Linked DNA regions of Homo sapiens. The protein of the gene in region 3 purifies or fractionates together with the protein of the main gene of each other region. This does not show direct contact. Each region holds a gene or a part of one and is shown on either strand. Other genes may lie near its edges.

The links.
Region 1: the proteins of CORO1A (region 3) and TJAP1 purify together in Homo sapiens (affinity purification with mass spectrometry; 3 studies listed by BioGRID and IntAct, with this or other methods). This does not show direct contact.
Region 2: the proteins of CORO1A (region 3) and IFT80 purify together in Homo sapiens (affinity purification with mass spectrometry; 3 studies listed by BioGRID and IntAct, with this or other methods). This does not show direct contact.
Region 4: the proteins of CORO1A (region 3) and VARS1 purify together in Homo sapiens (affinity purification with mass spectrometry; 4 studies listed by BioGRID and IntAct, with this or other methods). This does not show direct contact.

The regions. Positions count from the first base shown.
Region 1 is NC_000006.12:43,501,570-43,504,311, reverse strand, and holds part of TJAP1 (tight junction-associated protein 1), read right to left. Parts: coding exon 2,625-2,742; intron 2,030-2,624; coding exon 1,963-2,029; intron 1,725-1,962; coding exon 1,695-1,724; intron 912-1,694; coding exon 804-911; intron 690-803; coding exon 606-689; intron 1-605. UniProt on the Homo sapiens protein: Plays a role in regulating the structure of the Golgi apparatus.
Region 2 is NC_000003.12:160,378,726-160,382,225, forward strand, and holds part of IFT80 (intraflagellar transport protein 80 homolog), read right to left. Parts: intron 3,000-3,500; coding exon 2,778-2,999; intron 1-2,777.
Region 3 is NC_000016.10:30,186,602-30,189,576, forward strand, and holds the end of CORO1A (coronin-1A), read left to right. Parts: coding exon 1-119; intron 120-214; coding exon 215-344; intron 345-437; coding exon 438-622; intron 623-780; coding exon 781-900; intron 901-1,123; coding exon 1,124-1,228; intron 1,229-1,340; coding exon 1,341-1,486; intron 1,487-1,590; coding exon 1,591-1,648; intron 1,649-1,759; coding exon 1,760-1,975; intron 1,976-2,258; coding exon 2,259-2,363; 3' UTR 2,364-2,475; downstream 2,476-2,975. UniProt on the Homo sapiens protein: May be a crucial component of the cytoskeleton of highly motile cells, functioning both in the invagination of large pieces of plasma membrane, as well as in forming protrusions of the plasma membrane involved in cell locomotion.
Region 4 is NC_000006.12:31,785,753-31,789,252, forward strand, and holds part of VARS1 (valine--tRNA ligase), read right to left. Parts: intron 1-3,500. UniProt on the Homo sapiens protein: Catalyzes the attachment of valine to tRNA(Val).

The sequences.
Region 1 (2,742 bases), on a different chromosome or scaffold from region 3:
AACCCCATCTCTACTAAAAAGACAAAAAAATTAGCCAGGCGTGGTGGTGGGCGCCTATAATTCCAGCTACTTGGGAGGCTGAAGCAGGAGAATTGCTTGAAGCCGGGAGGCGGAGGTTGCAGTGAGCCGAGATTGTGCCACTGCACTCCAGCCTAGGTGACAGAGCAAGACTCCGTCTCAAAAAAAAAAAAAAAAAGAAATACCTCTACTTCTTCTACTTCTGCAGGCCACATAAACCTTGGGCCTGAAGCTGTGGGGTCTAGAGTTTACCCCTTGGGGTAACATGATCAGATGGGCCTAATCCTCTCTTAGTACTCTTTGGGCAGATAGCTCTGACTACCCTCTCCTTCCTGCCCAGGATCTTCTCTCTCTGTCTCTGTTACAGAAACCAACAGGGCTGGCCCCCCAGAACTAGTGATGGGCCCTGGACAGTACACGGGACACCAACCAGTGGCAGAGTTGACTGGCTTGAGAGGTGACATGGAGGCAAGAGGAGGGCAAAGTGGGAAGAGGAGGACAGAGAGAGGTGCAGAAACTGGAGTTAGAGGAGTCCTACAGTGGCCGGAATGGTCTATGTGGGCAGGGAGGGGGTGAGTTCTACTCACATCGGCAAACTTGTGGTTTCGGAAGTGGGACTTGTTGCACTTGAGGAGCTGTACAGCCAGGTTGCAGTCCAGCCGGTACCGCTCCTACAGACACAGACCTGTTTCAGAGCCCAGCCCAGCCCTCTCCAAGGAAGCAGGGCCGAGCCAGGACAAAGCTAGCCCCAGGTGAGGAAGGCCCGAGTAGTGAAGCGCACATACATTGAGCTCTTCCAGCTTGTTGATGGTGTTCTTGGCATCCAGCAGCTTGTTGGTCAGCTCCACAATCTCCCAGTCCAGCGTCTTCCTATCCATCTCAGCCTTCTTGATCTGAAGCACAGACTTGAGGTTAACCCAGCCCACACTCTAGCCAGCCCTTCCTCTCCCTCCACCTCCTCCCATCCTGGAGACACAAGAGGCCACAGGTGCTAGGGCAGCCAAGGCGGACAGAGCAGAGACAAATGACGGACAGACAGAAGGAGACTGGGCATCTCTCCCGCTCTCTGGACTGGCTGTGGGGTGGGGGCTTTCTTAGCATGACTTCCTGCCACCTGGGCCCAGGACACAGGCAGTATAAGAGCTGTCCATCCCCTGAGGTTCCAGGGGCTCTGGGCACCAGGCAAGGCAGCTGGTACCTCAACGGCAGTAACTGCAAACCAGGGGGCTGAAGCCTCCTATGTGTGCAGCTGTTTCCAGCATCAGGCTAGGAGAGGGAAGAGGAAGCAGGGCGCGGTGGCAGCCAGGGCACCTTGTTGAGCAGGGAGCAAGCTGCAGGCTCAAAAGTAGCCTTCTGATCTCCAGTTCAGGGACTGGATCTGCAGCCTCCCCTCCCCACTCCCACAGCCTGGGCTTGCTGCCACTGGAGCCAAGAAGCTTTGGGTGTTCAGTGGAGACATCAATCAGTACCTCTACCAGAGCCAAGGGCAGAGCAGGCTAGGCTCCCCACCTCTCTCCTGGGAGGGAGGCATTGACAGTTAAACGGGCCTCATACAGGGAAGAGAAAGGAGCGGGTGTACTCAAGGGGCACAGGGTAACAGCCAGGGCCCACAATCCCAGATCTCAGCTGAGGAGAAGGCCAGGGCAAGGGAGAAGACACACAAACTCAGACGCAACTGCAAAAATCCAGCTGTGGCTAAGAGAGGCCTGAGAGGAGAGTGCAGCAGCAACGGTGGCAGCATGAGGGGGAGACGAGGAAAGAAGAGAAACAGTGTGAGCATTAAGACAGTCTTGACTTGCAGAGCACACTGCAGTACCCCCACCACTGCCCCATCCCACCATCTCCCTCAAGCCCCAGGGCAGAGTGGCATTCCCCTGGCAAATCCTGGCCCCCTGCTATGCTATGAGCACAGTGCCCACCAAGCTGCCCTCCCAGACAGATTACCAGTGTGTGCAGCTTGTCCTCCAACTCCTGGTTGGTCCGCTGGGAAGCCGTGTAGCTGTTCTGCAGCCTGAAAAGGGATAATACAAGGCACATCCCTGGGTCAAGATCCTGTTCTTCAGGCTCTGTTCAGCCTCCCCGATAGGGGATCTTGAACATGTCATTCTCCCTCAAGAACTTCAGTTTTCTAATAGGAATTAGATGATCTCTAAGGCATCTTCCAGCTAACCTCCTATGAAAGGAGAGAGAGAGAGAGAGAGAGAGAGAGAGAGAGAGTGTGTGTGTGTGTGTGTGTGTGTGTGTGTCCCCGCATTCCCACACCTGCAGAACTTATCCAGTTTTCTAATAAGAATTAGATGATCTCTAAGGCATCTTCCAGCTAACCTCCTATGAAAGGAGAGAGAGAGAGAGAGAGAGAGAGAGAGTGTGTGTGTGTGTGTGTGTGTGTGTGTGTGTGTGTGGCCCCGCATTCCCACACCTGCAGAACTTATCCAGTTTTTTAATAGGAATTAGATGATCTCTAAGGCATCTTCCAGCTAACCTCCTATGAAAGGAGAGAGACAGAGACACAGAGAGAGAGAGAGACAGAGAGAGTGTGTGTGTGTGTGTGTGTGTGTGTGTGTGTGTGTGTGTGTGTGTGTGTGTCTGGCCCCTCATTCCCACACCTGCGGAACTTATCCTTAAATTTGTCCAGCTCCTCGCGGCTCTGGCCCAGCTCCAGCTCCAGGCAGTCCTGCCCAATTTCCAGCTCACGTTCCAGGGCCTCAGTGCGTCTGGTGGCGG
Region 2 (3,500 bases), on a different chromosome or scaffold from region 3:
AAATGATAATAATAATATATTTATGAAATAAAATGAGAATCTACAAGTCTAATCTGACCCCAAAAAAACAAATAAATATATGGGCATGGGACAGGAAGCTCTTCCTTGGAGTAGAATACCAACTAATCAATATGGAAGAAATTACGGAGTTGGAAAAATCACCATTTGGCAAACTATCTTAGTAATAAATGACTCAGCCAAGAGTCATCAATAGATGCTAAGAGAGTGGGAGGCAGTTTGATGAAGAAGATAATATTTTTACATAGTCTCAAAGTATCTTTTCATAAATTATTAAAAGGAATAAATAGTAACTTTACAGAGATTAACTTAATGAACATGAACTTATTAACTTATAATTAAGGTTAACATCACCAATAATGGGTCAAACCAACATCATAAATCTCCTAGTCTGATGCCCCGAGTATTCCTGCTAAGGACATATAAATTGAATCTAATCATGAGGAAACATCAGACAAAAACAAATTGAAGAACTATAAAATAACAGGCATATATTCTTCAACACTGTCAAGATCACAAAAGACTGAAGAGTTGTTCCAGATTAAAGGAAGCTAAAGAGACACAACAAAAACAATATGTTATCCTATACCAGCAAAAATAAACTTCTATGGAAAATTAGAATGATTGTTAAAATTTAAATATAAACTATAGATTAGATAATAGCATTGCATCAGTGTTAAATGTCCTGATTTTTATCAACAAATTGTGGCAATGTAACAGAAAATTCTTATTCTTAGGAAATGCATTGAAGTATTCATGGTTAAAAGTACATGTCTGCAAACTGCTCTCACATCTTTCAGAAAAAGGGTGTGTGCTGGGGGCGAGGAGGGTTTGTGTAAAAAGAAACAGAGCCAATACTTTGTCCCAACATATATGGGACAAAATGTTAAACTAGTGAATCTGGATAAAGGACATGCAGGAATTGTTTGTACAATTCTTAAAACTTTTCTGTAAATGCAAAATTATATCAAAATAATTGTTTAAGTCAAACACTCCCTTTATCACCTGAGGTAAACTAAATTCTAGCTGTGGTTCAGGGCCAATCTTCTAAGTGCCAGGCACTCTACCAAGTGATTTTACACATGTATCTCATTTAATCAAGTTTCTGAAAAACAAAGTTTTAAAAAACTACCACAAGTCTCTCGGTAAATAAGGTGTAATCTGATACTACTGTTTGTCCTAACATCCTTTCCATCTTCAGGTTACAAAAGCCCTCTTCTCTTTCTCTTTTCCTTTGCATGTGGATGGCCTGAGGCTGGATACGCTCAATCAGTGTCCCATTGTCTTTTTTTCTTTTTTTTTTTTTTTGAGACGGAGTCTTGCTCTGTGCCCAGGATAGAGTGCAATGGCGCAATCTCAGCTCACTGAAACCTCTGCATTCCAGGTTCAAGCAATTCTCCTATCTCAGCCTCCCAAGTAGCTGGGACTATAGGCATGTGCCACCATGCCTAGCTAAAATTTTTTTGTATTTCAGTACAGACGGGGGTTTCATCATGTTGCTCAGGCTGGTCTCGAACTCCTGACCTCAAATGATGCGCCCACCTCAGCCTCCCAAAGTCCATTTCTCTTGACTAAACTGATTGACTCAGTGATGGGCATATGACCCAAGCTCATTAAGGGTCCCTCTGCAAGCTGCCTGCACGAGATACTGAGGAAGAAGCAGTCTTACAAAGTATGATGAGCCTTGGGCTACTGGCCACCGTCATACTCACCATCATGTTCACCATGTGCAGAGAGTCTACCCAAGAGATGGTGAGAACAGGGACCCGATGCAACTAGTGCTTGATCTACCCCTACAGCTAGGTGAACCAAAAAACTCCATTTGTGCTTAAGTTAGCCAAATAAGTTTCTGTTACTTTCAATCAATGTACTCCTAATTGAAACAGCAGGTAAAGTATAACACAGATGAAAACAGTTCACGTATTTCTAAGAAAACAAATATAAAAACATACCCTTAAAAAGTGAAAAAAAAAATCATACTTGTTATTCACCAATAAGAAAGCTGCGGTCAAATTATAAAACTCTTCAACTCTGTAACTGAAAATTAACATGTACTGGAAAATAAAGTATGTATTTTAACAGATACCTTACTAAATGAATAGGTATATCTTTTCAGTGTGGTTATATTAAGTTAAATTTGAAGAATTTAGGAACTAAAACTATGATAACAGCTTAACTCAACTCATAAGAGTACTAAAAAAGTAAAGCCAGCTGGGCATGGTGGCTCATACCTGTAATCCCAGCACTTTGGGAGGCCAAGGAAGGAAGATTGCTTGAGGCCAGGAGTACAAGACTAGCCTGGGCAACAAGATGAGACCCTGTCTCTACAAAAAAAATGTTTTAATTAACCAGATGTAATAGTGTGTGCCTGTAGTCCCAGCTACTCAAGAGGCTGAGGCAGGAAGATTGTGTGAGCCCAGGAGTTTGAAGCTACAGTGAGCTATGATCACACCACTGCACTCTGGCCTGGGCAACAGAGTGAGACCCCATCTCTAAATATATATATATATATATATATATATTAAAGCCAAAGACCCATATTCAATCCTAGTATATGCCAGTTAAACTAACTTTCTTCCATGACAATAATTTCATAGCCCATACACAAACCAAGTGACTATTCAGAAAAGAAATACAATATGTGGATAAAAATATGCAGATCCACAAATACCAGTTTTGTAAAACAACTCAAAGCATAAATCATACTATTAAGTCTTTTAAATACAATGGCGAGCATATAATGTTTATTTAAAACTTACCATCAGAACTTGTGAGGACAAAGCTTTCTGCCTGGGTTTGTTTCTTTACACCCAAACTTTTTGGAAACCAGTGAAAATCAATAGGGTAAATATCATCAGGAAGCTTTACTATTTGAGTTGTTTCACTGGTTAACAAGTTCCACTTCACTATCTGGTGATCATCACTACATGAATACAGCTCTTCAGCAGTAGTCCAGCCCACACAGCTTACTAATTCTTGATGTGTCACCATGTTAAAGAGACATAAAACATACAAAAGTCTTTAATCTTAATGAATAATTCACAGATGCAGATTATAAGGTATAAGTAAAATAGGGTCAAATGGTTTCAAGATTCTAAATGTATTTTCCATTTTATGACTGGTATTTTTTTCTATATAAAAGAAAATAAGCATCTATTAAAAGAATTGTAAAAATGGAAAGCAAGAAAGAAATCCAGATGCCAAAAGGTGGGGGAGAAAAGATCTGACCACATGAAAATTTAAAACTTGTGTTATACAATATTCTATACACAAAGCCAAAAGGTATACAAAAGAGACTTAGTAGATCAAAAGGTATCAAAGAATCTACACTGAACTGTTGGGGGATAGGTAGGGAGCAAAGGGAACTATACTTTTTTCTTTATATATGTCTGTATCATGTAAGTTATTAAAATAAGCATGTATTCTTTTGCTAAGGAAAAAATAATCAAGTGTCAAAACAAGACTGAAATCTAACAGTAGGC
Region 3 (2,975 bases):
GACGTGTGGACAAGAATGCGCCCACGGTCTGTGGCCACACAGCCCCTGTGCTAGACATCGCCTGGTGCCCGCACAATGACAACGTCATTGCCAGTGGCTCCGAGGACTGCACAGTCATGGTGAGTGGTGGTGGGGACCCAGGGGCTGGGAGAGGGGCTCTAGGATGGGATCTGACATTTGGAGTCCTGAAGACTCACTGGCCCCTCCTCTGCAGGTGTGGGAGATCCCAGATGGGGGCCTGATGCTGCCCCTGCGGGAGCCCGTCGTCACCCTGGAGGGCCACACCAAGCGTGTGGGCATTGTGGCCTGGCACACCACAGCCCAGAACGTGCTGCTCAGTGCAGGTGCTGCGGGAGGAGGGGCTTGGGGGTGGCTCGTGGCCTGCAGTGGATGAGGGCAGGAGGCTCATGGCTTCTGACACTGTGGGGAACGTGCAGGTTGTGACAACGTGATCATGGTGTGGGACGTGGGCACTGGGGCGGCCATGCTGACACTGGGCCCAGAGGTGCACCCAGACACGATCTACAGTGTGGACTGGAGCCGAGATGGAGGCCTCATTTGTACCTCCTGCCGTGACAAGCGCGTGCGCATCATCGAGCCCCGCAAAGGCACTGTCGTAGCTGTGAGTCGCCATCTACCCTGACCTTTGACCCTACAGCCTTTATCCTTCTTATCCACCATCAGCCAGGCCCTTGGATGCTGCCCTCCCTCGCCTCCACCTGGGACTGGCCCCGTAGGGTATGTACGGGTGCCTGACCTACCACCTCCCTTTCCTTGCAGGAGAAGGACCGTCCCCACGAGGGGACCCGGCCCGTGCGTGCAGTGTTCGTGTCGGAGGGGAAGATCCTGACCACGGGCTTCAGCCGCATGAGTGAGCGGCAGGTGGCGCTGTGGGACACAGTGAGTGCTGGGGCAGGAAGCCGAGGGCCCCCAGGCTGGGAACCAAGACTGGAGGTTTCGTCCCTGCTCTGCCACTCACCTGGCAGGATGGCCATGGGCCTCAGTTTACCCAGGCGTGAGATGGTTGTTCCCACTGGTTGGTCGGGAGGGCCCTCACAGGTCACTGCCCAGGGAAGACCACCATCCCAGGGCCTGGGATGTTACCTCTCACCTGTGTCTACAGAAGCACCTGGAGGAGCCGCTGTCCCTGCAGGAGCTGGACACCAGCAGCGGTGTCCTGCTGCCCTTCTTTGACCCTGACACCAACATCGTCTACCTCTGTGGCAAGGTGGCCTCGTCGGGCGGGGTGGGGGTGGGAGGTGGGCAGGATGGGCCTGGAGAGGGCCAGGGCAGTGGGCATCCGCTGGTATTGACCCTCCCTCCACACCTGCCACCTACAGGGTGACAGCTCAATCCGGTACTTTGAGATCACTTCCGAGGCCCCTTTCCTGCACTATCTCTCCATGTTCAGTTCCAAGGAGTCCCAGCGGGGCATGGGCTACATGCCCAAACGTGGCCTGGAGGTGAACAAGTGTGAGATCGCCAGGTGACTGACCCCCGGCCCTGACCGCAGCATGCTCCTTGGGCAGTGGGCAGTCCCAAGCCCACCCAACCAGACTGTGGGCCCCGCTCACCTTCCCCTTCCCACAGGTTCTACAAGCTGCACGAGCGGAGGTGTGAGCCCATTGCCATGACAGTGCCTCGAAAGGTGATGCTCCCCCGCCCCACCCTGGGCTCCAGGCTGGGCACTGACTTTGCGGTCTTGTGGGGGGTGTCCTGGCATAAGCGCTTTCCTCACTATCCCTGGCCTTGCCCACAGTCGGACCTGTTCCAGGAGGACCTGTACCCACCCACCGCAGGGCCCGACCCTGCCCTCACGGCTGAGGAGTGGCTGGGGGGTCGGGATGCTGGGCCCCTCCTCATCTCCCTCAAGGATGGCTACGTACCCCCAAAGAGCCGGGAGCTGAGGGTCAACCGGGGCCTGGACACCGGGCGCAGGAGGGCAGCACCAGAGGCCAGTGGCACTCCCAGCTCGGTGAGAGGGCTGGGAAGCCAGGGAATAAAACTGGGAGGGTGGGGTGGGGCTGGTGTTTGGGGCACCTCAAACTCACAACATTGGGAATCTTTGTGGGTCCGGGAATGGTAATCCTGAGGCCTCAGAACACAGGTTTCAGATTGATAGGCCTGCAGGTCTCCAGGCAGCAACCAGCTGAGCGACTAAAGGGCCCAAGGCCAGGGCTCTAGGGATGGGGCTCAGCAGAGGCTGGGGTAAGGGGAGCCAGGGAGGAGCTGGGCCTAATGCAGCACCGGGTCCCCAGGATGCCGTGTCTCGGCTGGAGGAGGAGATGCGGAAGCTCCAGGCCACGGTGCAGGAGCTCCAGAAGCGCTTGGACAGGCTGGAGGAGACAGTCCAGGCCAAGTAGAGCCCCGCAGGGCCTCCAGCAGGGTCAGCCATTCACACCCATCCACTCACCTCCCATTCCCAGCCACATGGCAGAGAAAAAAATCATAATAAAATGGCTTTATTTTCTGGTACCTCCCAGACTCTGATGACTGGTCCCCTAGACACGCAGTTTGCTGAACCAACCAGCCCTAGAGCTTCCCCTCCACCGCGCTGAGGGGACTGACCCATGGCAGGGGATGTGGGATGCCCCCTGACTTACTACATCACAGGAACAGGGCCTTCGTGGGTAGAAACCAGCCATGCTGATGTGGGCCAGGAGGCTGCTCTCCGTTTCCGAGCTCCTTCTCAGAGCTGACACAGCTGAACTATTTAAGGCCCTAGCTTAGAACCTCAATAATTCCCAAATTTACCAAAAATCTGCCTTTCCTAGTCAACCAAAACATCACGTTGCACGTGACTCTGCTGGCACTGTTGCTTGTGAGGAAATGAACCAACCATCACTTACAGGGTAGGCATCTTTTAAACTGCAGGTCCAAAGATAAAAATAACGAGGGAGGCTGGGCATGGGGACTCACGTCTATAATCCCAGCACTGTGGGAGGCTGAGGCGGCAGGATCATTTGAGCCCAGGA
Region 4 (3,500 bases), on a different chromosome or scaffold from region 3:
ACCAGAGGGTGAGCCAGGCCAGTGGGGCCTGGCACCAAAGAAAGCAGAGGCTTCAGGCAAGGAGTCAGTGGACTAAATAAAGAAGCAGGGAGGCCGGACGCGGTGGCTCACGCCTGTAATCCCAGAACTTTGGGAGGCTGAGGTGGGTGGATCACCTCAGGTGGGGGAGTTCGAGATGAGCCTGGCCAACATGGTAAAACCCCGTCTCTACTAAAAATACAAAATTAGCTGGGCATGGTGGCATGCGCCTGTAATCCCAGCACTTTGGGAAGCCGAGGTGGGTGGATCACCTGAGGTGGGGACTTCAAGATAAGCCTGGCCAATATGGTAAAACCCTGTCTGTATTAAAAATACAAAATTAGCTGGGCGTGGTGGCATGTGCCTGTAATCCCAGCTACTTGGAAGGCTGAGGCAGGAGAATTGCTTGAACCCGGGAAGCAGAGGTTGCAGCAAGCTGGGATCATGCCATTGCACTCCAGCCTGGGTGACAGAGTGAGACTCCGTCTCCAAAAAACAAACAAAAAAAAAAAGAAAGAAGCAGGGGTGGAGCTGGAACCCTTGTGATTCTAAAGCTAGTCAAGGAGAAAAGATTTGAAGGAAGAGCCAAGGCAATATGGAAAAAGAACAAAGACAGGCATGCGTGGTGGCTCACACCTGTAACCCCAGGACTTTGGGAGGCCAAGGCGAGTGGATCACTTGAGGACAGGAGTTCGAGACCAGCCTGACCAACATGGCAAGACCCTGTCTCTACCAAAAATATAAAAATTAGCCAGGATGGTGGTGCATACCTGTAATCCCAGCTACTTGGGAGGCTGAAGCACGAGAATCGCTTGAAGCTGGGAGGGGGAGGTTGCAGTGAGTTGAAATTGTGCCACTGCACTCCAGCCCGGATGACAGAGTGAGACTCTGTCTCAAAAAAAAAAAAAAAAAAAAAAAAAAAGAACGAAGAGGAGGCTCCTGCCAAACAGGATAGCAAAAGTTCTAATTGTTAAAATAAGTTACTAAACAGGAACAAAATAGTACCTGGAAACAGATACAAGCAAATTTAGTGTTTGTGAAAGTTGGCACTTCCTATCAGTAAAATAAGGATAAACTATTCAAAATGTTTGAAACAACTAGCTAATTATTTGGAAAAAATCTCCCCCTTACCAATAGTCACAAAAAGAAACTTTAGATAGATTAAAGAATTCAAGCCAGGCACAGTGGCTCAAGCCTATAACCCCAACACTTTGGGAGGCCAAGGTGAGAGGACTGCTTGAGCCCAGGAGTTGCAGACTAGCCTGGGCAACATAGTGAGACCTAGTCTCTGCAAAAAAAAAAAAAAAAAAGCCAGGCATGGTGGCGTGCACCTTTGTTCCCAGCTACTTGGGTGGCTGAGGTTGAGGCTGCACCAAGCTATGATTGTGCTGTGATCATGCCGATGCACTCCAATCTGGCCAACACAGTGAGAGAGACTCTGTCTCAAAAATAAATAAATAAACAAATAAATAAAAATAAAAAGTTGATATAACTCTATTCCATTAAAGTAATGGGAGTGTCTCACATTTTATTTAAACCACGTTCACTGGAAAAAAAATGTGGCTACCTTAAGAGTTTTATAAGAAGTATGTGGCCAGGCACAGTGGCTCACACCTGTAATCCCAGCACTTTGGGAGGCCGAGGCAGGCGGCTTACTTCAGGTTAGGAGTTCAAGACCAGCTTGGCCAACATGGCAAAACTCTGTCTACTAAAAATGCAAAAGAATTAGCTGGGCGTGGTGGTGCGTGCCTGTAGTCCCAGCTACTCAGGAGACTGAGACACAAGAATCGCTTGAACCCAAGTGGTTGAGGTTGCAGTGAGACGAGATCGCGTCACTGCACTCCAGCCTGGGCGACAGAGCGAGACTCTGTCTCAATTAAAAAAAAAAAAGTAGTCATTCTGTTTTCATGTAAACAAACTTGGAGGCCAGGTATGGTGGTTCATGCCTGTAGTCCCAGCACTTTGGGAGACTGAGGCAGGAGGATTGCTTGAGCCCAGAAGTTCAAGACCAGCCTGGGCAACATAGCGAGACCCTCTCTTGATTTTATTAAAAAATTGAAAAACAGGGCCGGGCGTGGTGGCTCACGCCTATAATCCCAGCACTTTGGGACGCCGAGGTACGCGAATCACGAGGTCAGGAGATCGAGACCATCTTGGCTAACACGGTGAAACCCCGTCTCTACTAAAAATACAAAAAAAATTAGCCAGGCGTGGTGGTGGGCTCCTATAGTCCCAGCTACTCAGGAGGCTGAGGCAGGAGAATGGTGTGAACCTGGGAGGAGGAGCTTGCAGTGAGCAGAGACTGCGCCACTGCACTCCAGCCTGGGTGACAGAGCAAGACCCCATTTCCAAAGAAAAAAAAAAAATTGAAAAATTGAAAAAACAAAAACGCAAACACAAACGCAAACAACTTGGCCATTGTATGTTATGTGTATTTAACAGAACTGTTGGCTGGACGAAGTGGCTCATGCCTGTCATCCTAGCACTTTGGGAGACCGAAGCGGGAGGATCACAAGGTCAGGAGCTCGAAACAAGCCTGACCAACATGGTGAAACCCCGTCTCTACTAAAAATACAAAAATTAGCCAGGTGTGGTGGCATGCGCCTGTAATCCCAGCTACTCAGAAGGCTGAGGCAGGAGAATCGCTTGAGCTCAGGAGGCAGAGGTTGCAGTAAGCGCGCATCACTGCACTCCAGCCTGGGAAACCGAGAGAGACTCTGTCTCAAAAAAACAAAAAAAACAAAAAAAAAAACAGGCCAGGCGCGGTGGGTCACGCCTGTAATCCCAGCACTTTGGGAGGCCGAGGTGAGCAGATCATGAGGTCAAGAGATCGAGACCATCCTGGCCGACAGGGTGAAACCCTGTCTCTACTAAAAAAAATACAAAAAATTAGCCAGGCGTGGTGGCGGGCGCCTGTAGTCCCAGCTACTCAGGAGGCTGAGGCAGGAGTATGCTGTGAACCTGGGAAGCAGAGCTTGCAGTGAGCCAAGATTGCGCCACCGCACTCCAGCCTGGGCGACAGAGAGAGACTCTGTCTCAAAATAATAATAATAATAATAAAAATAAAAAAATAAAACATATAACTGTTTTCCTAGCTCTCAGTTACTTGCAAAATGCACAATCAAACATTATATTCCCAGTGCTCAGAGCAGAGGTGGCACATAGTTGGGCCCAGTAAATATTTTTTGACCACATTAATTTAGTACATAAGACACCAGAAAAAATTCTCAAAATTTAAATATAATAAACCCTGGTTTCCAAAAATGGTAAAGTTATTTTAAAATACTTTTTAAAAAGATTTGTCACCTAGAATATTACTTTGTATTTATCACTAATTAAAATATTAACAGTGAAAACAAATAGTAACAGAAAACAGGAGAAACATTTACAATTAACAGGAAAACTACCACACAATAATACAACAAAAACATTTACAATATTTAACAAAAAAATTGATACCCAGAACAGGTAAAGAATTCTCA